Linked DNA regions of Homo sapiens. The protein of the gene in region 1 interacts with the protein of each later gene in a pairwise test. Each region holds a gene or a part of one and is shown in the gene's direction. Other genes may lie near its edges.

Region 1 (3,750 bases):
GCCATCCTGAGACAGTGCCACGCTCTATTGAGTCATGAGGGCGTTATTACATGAGGGAAGCCTGGTCCGTAGCTTTGGGCTCGGGCATCTTCCTCAGGATGTCAGTGGGTTTGTGTAGAGGATTCTCTGGGTCACCCAAACTTGCACACTTTGGGAACCCAGCAAACTTTCTTTCTTTTTTTAAAAAATCTATTCTTTTTTTCAAAGTTCAGTAACTTGCCCATCTTTTGTGGTTTGATTTGTTTTGTTTTGTTTTTGTTTTTAAGAGATGGGGTCTTGCTCTGTCACCCAGGCTGGAATGCAGTGGTGCCATCACAGCTCACTGCAGCCTTGAACTCCTGGGTTCAAGAGATCCTCCCACCTCAGCTTCCTGAGTAGCTAGGATCACAGGCGCATGCCACCATGGCCAGCTAATTTTAAATATTTTTTTTTGTAGAGACAGGGTCCCACTATGTTGCCCAGGCTGGTCTCAAACCCTTGGCCTCAAGTGATTCTCCTGCCTTGGCCTCCCAACGCGCTGGGATTACAGGCATGAGCCACCGAGCCCAGTCTAGAGAAATTTCTTAAATTGGGTCTCTTGGGTCCTGGCTTTTTGTCAACCTGAAGCACGTTCTAAGTCGATGGTAGAAAGTGGACACCCCCAGAAGACACTTTTGCCCAGAAATCTCTTTCTTCCTGACCCCTCTTCCCCAGAGTGCCCGGAATTCCACTGTCAGAAATGCATTGTCTGGGTTAAAAAACTTAACACCTGCTATGATTTCAACAGTGTCAAAACAGGATACGTCAAAACTGGGCGAGGAGGAAATGTATTTGGGTTCTAGGATAGTGAAAGCTCTATTTTTTCTACTTTTCTGTATTTTCCATATTTGGTACAATGAGCACGTACTTAGAACGGTTTTAGATTTACGAAAATATTGCAAACACAGTACAGATAGTTCTTGCGTCCCCCATGCCTAGTTCCTCTATTGCTAACGTCTCAACGTTAGTGTGGTGCGTTTGTTGCAATGGGTGAATGAATATTCGTGGGCTGTTATTAAAGTCAGTGCTTCACCCCTATTTCCCCAGCTTTCCTCTTACATCCTTTTTCTGTTCCAAGATTGCATCCAGGATGCCGCGTTACATTTAGTCTTCACACTTCCTTAGGTTCCTCTTGGTATGATGGTTTCTCAGATTTTTCTTGTTTTTGATAATCTTGACAGTTCGAGGAGTATTTGTCAGGCATTTTGTCAAATGTTCTTCAACTGGGGTCTCTGGTGGTTTTCTCATGATTAGTCTGGGAATGTGCTTTTGGGAGGAAGACCACAGAGATGATGTGCCAGTCTCAGAACATCGTACTAAGAAAAGGTTCTGCCAACTTGACTTACCACTGTTGCTGGTGACTTTGAGCCCCCGGCTGAGGTTACTCCTTTGTAAAGTTACTCTTTTTTTCTCCTTTCCATGCTGTATGTTTTAGAAGGAAGTCACTATGCTGCTCCAAGCAACTCAAGTTTGATGAATGGGGAGTTCCGCCCCACCTCCTTGAGGGCAGAGTAGCTACATAAATTACTTGGAATTTCTCAAGGAGATTTGTCTGTACTCCCAGTTTATTATATAAATAAATGATTTATTTATATTACAGGGACCCAGGGATCTTTACTGTATGCTTTGGGTTATAATCCAATGGTACTTTACTTTGTGGCTCAAGTATACTACTTTTAAATTGGAAAAAAAAAAAAGTACGGCCAGGTGCGGTGGCTCATGCCTGTAATCCCAGCATTTTGGGAGGTTGAGGCGGGTGGATCACTTGAGGTCAGGACAAAACCCTGTCTTTACTAAAAATACAAAAAATTAGCTGGGCATGATGGCGGGAGCCTGTAGTCCAAGCTACGCGGGAGGCTGAGGCAGGAGAATTGCTTGAACCTGGGAGGTGGAGGTTGCAGTGAGCCGAGATCGCGCCACTGCGCTCTAGCCTGACAGAGTGAGACTCTTTAAAAAAAAAAAAGGTAAAGCATTCAAATCATAGTATTTGAAGAAGGAGTCTCTATTGCCCTGACCTCGTGCAGGTAAGTTCACCCATGTGCCCAGCCCCAGGCCGGGATACAGCCCTGACTCATTCACGGCCTCTGCCCTTGAGGGGCCAGTCTGCCAAGGAAAAACCGACGAGGACAATGGATGACATTGCTGGCTATGATGGGGGCACAGATGTAGGGCTGGAGGTTGGGATTCTGGAATAGCTTCTTGGAGGAGGTCTGAGTCTTAAGGATGAGTAGGGCTTTGCTTGGGCACCTTGGAAAAGAGGTCACGCTGGGCGGGGGGAGTAGCATGACACAGGCTTGGAGGGGAAGGACCCTGCAGTGCTTCAGAGACCTAGCAGGTTTGTCAAGCTGGGTTAGGAGGGGTGGCCACGAGGTGTGTCGGGGAGGAGGGTGGAGAGGTCCCCAGGGGTGGGACCTGCCCGAGTCCTTTGCTTTTACAAGCTTCAGAGCTAAGAAGATGGATCTCTCTTCGGCCTATCAGCTCATTTTGCAGATGGGAAAACAGGTCCAGCAGGGCCCCTTACTTGCTCCAGGACACATGGAGAGATGGGGCAGGAGCTTGCTTCAGGTCCCCCTGCTGGCACACAGGTGTGTGGAATGATCCAGAAAGTGGGCAAATGAGTTCCTTCCCTGCCCCATGGCTGGGGTGGTGTGTCTGTCTGGGAGGCCCTGCCCTCATCCAGCCTCCCACCATTCATTTCTTCTTTATGGTCCAGTTTACGGGAAGCTTCCTCCTCCAGGAAGCTCTCCTGATTTGTCCTCCTTAGAACTCCTGGGGCTCTTTTCTCTGCTCCACTTTGGGGGCAGTGATTTGTGATTGAAAGGAACACAGGCCCATCTCCATTACTTACCAGCAGTGTGACTTGAGCAGGCGGGCACCTTTGTTATCTGAGCCTTGCCTTCCTCATCTGTAAATGGGGCCAGTGGTCCCTGCCTCAAAAGTGATCATTTGGAGGAGACCCTAGCGAAGCCGGGTGGAGGGCTAGCAGGTGAGTGCCTGAAGTGGGCTGTGGAAGAAGAACACAAGGCCCCCCGCCCCTTTTTTTTGAGACTGAGTCTTGCTCTATCACCCAGGCTGGAGTGCAGTGGCGTGATCCTGGCTCACTGCAACCTCTGCCTCCCGGGTTCAAGTGATTCTTGTGCCTCAGCCTCCCAAGTAGCTGGAATCACAGGTGTGTGCCATCATGCCCGGCTAAGTTTTGTATCGTTAGGAGAGATGGGGTTTCACCATGTTGGCCAGGCTGGTCTTGAACTCCTGACCTCAAGTGATCCACCAGCCTCAGCCTCCCAAAGTGCTGGGATTATAGGCGTGGGCCATAGTGCCTGGCCCCACTCCTCTGTTGAAAGTTCATCTGTTTGGGGTTGAAAAATGGGTCCAAACTGCCAGGTGGGGAAAACCCTGGGTGAGAATCTGTTAGAACTTGCCACCTTTATGTCCAGTGCCCCTGGGCTGGACAGAGAGGCCACGTTCTCTGCCACTGCAGCTCTGTGCGCTTCACGGAGGGGTGAGGAGGCCGGTGGGGGCAGGGTGGGAGTTGTAGCCCCTCCTCAGTGTCAGAACTGAGTTGTTCTCCTCACCTCAGGGGTGTGAACCCCAGCTTCTAAAAGCAGGAGGCCCCCATGGCCCATCCCACCCAGAGAGTGGCTGAAGGGCCTAGCCTGGCCTGGCCGAGACTTCTCTGTTGCCAACCTGGCCCCGAGGCCTCCAGGAAGTGAGGCTTTTATTTTGAGCCTA
Region 2 (3,750 bases), on another chromosome or scaffold:
CACTTAGCCTCCCTGTGTTTGTGGGGTAACAACCCGAGTTCATGTTGTGGGCATCTCATGCAGTGTAGTAGCTGGTCACTGTCAAGTGTCACTATTTCATTGAGTCAGAAGCCTGCAGAATTGTTCTCATTCCAGGGAGTGAGTCAGTCTGCTGTTGCTTACTCTCGGTGCTGGCTGAGCTCAGCAACCTGCTCTCTTCCTTCAGTTCAGGTTTCTCCAGGGCAAAGAAGTCTTTATTGTTCCTTTCTGTATGACCAGATGGGAAATGAATTATAATATAGTCCTTAGATTATATTCCCACCTGGTAGCAATGCACTGAGTTACCTGACCTGAAATTTGTTGGACTTAGTCTCCATGGAGGAGGATTTACCATCTTCGTTGTCTCAGAAGTCCTGGTAGTGCCTCATGCCAGCAATTTAGCAGGAGCAAAAGCTTTGAGACAGTGTTCTGGATCTGCTGAGCTGGTCTAAAGGAACCTCTTTTGCTTGAAGTAACTGTGATAGGAACTTTGTTACTGCTTCTGTTAGCTCAGGTGTTGGAATGAGAATCAGCAGCTGATGAGGTGAACAGCTAGGAGTACTGGAATTATGGAGTAGTGGAGGTAGATTTTATAAACAGAGGGTCCCAGTTTTTTGGAAATGGGAAAGAGAGAGGGTAGACTGGCCTTTCTAGAATTTGTAACAGAAAAGAGGACCCAGGAGCTTCCATTGACTAGTTAGTTAATGCAGTGCGGGATCTTAGCTGGTTTGCTTGGTCCAATTCCTGTCTCTCGGTTTCTTTTTTCCCTTCCCTTCGCTGCCTTCCCCTCCCTCTTCCCTTTTTCTTTCCAAGAGAATTGAGTCACTCCATATAAAAGAAGCAGCCAGTTGGCTAAAAAGTCCAACAAAAAACAAGTATTTATAGCTCTCCAAATTTCCCACTTGTCATTATCAGTATACTTTTGCACACAGTTATAGTCGGTGTTTGGGATCCTTTTTAAAAAAATAAAAAGTTTCTGTAGGCTTTTCCATGCATGAACACAGCTTATCAACTTGCCCCGGCTGTGCCAGGATTCCATTGTTGACTGTTGTTTGAGCAGTCATGCCCTTTGTTCTTAGGCTGTGTGTTGTTTTTTTCCTAACATCATAGTATGGCTGGGTATTATTTTGATACAGATTACAATTACTATTACTATTTCTTGAAGTGTATTTCCCAGAGTGGAATATTTTAGGATCTTTTTTTCTCTTTTGTGGGGGTGGGGAACATGTAGCTTCTTGTGGATATTAGACATTGAAGTCTAAAAAGGTTCTATATTTATGATTTGGCCCTCAATTTTCTAGAGATTCCAATGGTTCCTGCAAAGAAAAGAGCATTCAAGTATAGAAACCAGCCAGACTAAGTCTGGACATGTAGCTTTTCAGAAAGTGAAAAAAAATTATGTTTCTGCAGTTGCAAGGTGGCCTCTGAATGCCACACTGTGTGGCCACTCCCTTGGACAGTGGCTAGGCCACAGGGTCGCCTCCCCTGGCCCCAGTCTGTGGGTTGAATATGCTAACCGAGCCTTCCCAGGAGCCTCCTCTGCCCCCAGCCCCCAGGTCTGTACAGATGGTAGTTGGTACTTTCAGCCCGCCTTGAGAACTCAGTATTCTTCCTGTTAGCTTTCCTTCAAAGTAAAATCGGTAGAACCTATTTTGAGTGTAGAAAATTTGAAGTCGTGGACAGCAGATTACAAAAAATTGCCCACCACCATGCCTGGCTCATTTTTGTATTTCTAGTAGAGATGGGCTTTCACCATGTTGGCCAGGCTGGTCTCGAACTGCTGACCTCAGGTGATCTGCCCACCTCGGCCTCCCTAAATGCTGGGATTATAGGTGCGAACCACTGTGCCTGGCTCCTTTTTGTATTTTTCGGAGAAGCACAAGGACTTGTTGTTTAATTAAGCAAGACTATACTCTCCCAGAGCATGCAGTTATTATTGAGTAAAACACAGTTAATGAGATTTAATCACGTTCCCTATCACTGTTGTGCAGCATGATAAGTAGGTGCAAATGGCAAGAAGCACGCTGAAGTTACTGCAGTTGGTAACCTGGGCCATGGATGGCACTTGTCTTTGCCTCATTTTGCCTGTAAGAAGCATGGGGCCTGTGGTCCTGGGGTACCTGGACCCTCAGCCTGGTGTGTGTGTGCCCTCAGCCTGGTCCTTTACTTCCATCACCCATCTAGAGGCTCCAGGACCCTTTACTGCACCCCTCCCTCCTCTAGATAGCTCAGTGTTTTCATCCCAGCACCTTTTTCTCTGCTGCCTGAGAACTGAGCAGCCAGAGACAAATTTTGGCTCTCAGGGTCCTCAAGGGTGTACAGCAAAGCTGTTCTTATTATTTAAAGTATTTTATTTATTTATTTTTGAGACAGAGTCTTACTTTGTCGGCCAGGCTGGAGTGCAGTGGCATGATCTCGACTCACTGCAACCTCTGTCTCCCAGGCTCAAGAAATCCTCCTACATCAGCCTCCCAAGTAGCTGGGATTACAGGCTGGAGTGCAGTGGCTCCATCTCGGCTCACTGCAACCTCCGCCTCCCAGGTTCAAGCGATTCTCCTGCCTCAGCCTCCTGAGTAGCTGGGATTACAGGTGTGTGCCACCATGCCTGGCTAATTTTTGTATTTTTAGTAGAGACAGGGTTTTACCATGTTGGCCAGGCCGGTCTCGGACTCCTGACCTCCTGATCTGCCCACCTCGGCCTCCCAAAGTGTTGGGATTACAGGCGTGAGCCACCGCGCCCGGCTAGCAAAGCTGTACTTTTACCAAAAAAAAAAAAGAAAACATTTATAAATCAAGGTCTGAAGGCCCATGTGAGGCTTATTCTACAGCTTGCAATGCCTGTTTTTGCCCCTTGGTAAGTGGACGCACAGCTGGGCAGCCTTATGCTATCTCTGTGAACTACCCATTTCTGGCTTTGTTCATAATATTCCCTTGATCTGGAGGCCCTCCCCCAGCCCTGCCCCAAATCCTGTCTGTGTTGAGGGTCCTGCCCCAGGAAGCCCTCTGCATACTCTTCCCTGCATGTAATACCTGCCTGCTTTCACATTCTTCTAGACTGTGCTGTGCATCGTACAGTTCATCAGCATTATTGCAGAGTAGAGTGTCTCTGATTTGGAGTCAAGAGAAGGTTCCATTTTTCTGTACATCCCGATGTTTATTTTCTGAGTGTTCTCAGACATCACTAAGCCTCAGTCAAAATAAAGTATGATCATGATGTAACATTCATTGAGTGCTTATCACATGGTAGGCATTGTGCTATATGAGTTATTGCTTGACTTCCTAAAATAATCCCAGTAGAGATGCTAAATCTAAAGGTGAGAGAGATGGTTCAAAAAGACCTCAGTGAGCAAACCATGTACTATAATATCCTAAAAGATAACAAAAATGTAACTAGGTATCTAGAGAAAACTCAGGAAGGATATGTGCCTTGGGCCTTTTAAGGACCATTTCTTAACACTTCTGTGTTCTTCTTGACACCTGTTTCTGGGTAGAGCACATAGAAAATGCTCAGTAAATAAGTTCTTTTTCCTTGGCCCAGTTTGGCCTGATTTGGCCCCAGTTCTGTCTTTGTGAGTTACTTTATTAGTTGTCGGTGCTACTGTGCTGCTATTCATGTGGAAGATTCCCCAAATGGGCTGCGCCTTACATTGCCTGAGCAGAAGCCCCGAGGGATGGAGGATGAGCTTGCCTTGTTATGGGACTGTGTTTCCCTGGCTGACAAAGGCTCAGCAT

Evidence for each region.
Region 2: the proteins of LAPTM5 (region 1) and HMOX2 interact in binary tests that used the Homo sapiens proteins (3 or more experiments, as listed by UniProt).

Annotation. Positions count from the first base shown.
Region 1 is NC_000001.11:30,751,051-30,754,800, reverse strand, and holds part of LAPTM5 (lysosomal-associated transmembrane protein 5), read left to right. Parts: intron 1-2,440; exon of another isoform or gene 2,441-3,750. UniProt on the Homo sapiens protein: May have a special functional role during embryogenesis and in adult hematopoietic cells.
Region 2 is NC_000016.10:4,500,353-4,504,102, forward strand, and holds part of HMOX2 (heme oxygenase 2), read left to right. Parts: intron 1-2,391; exon of another isoform or gene 2,392-2,607; intron 2,608-3,750.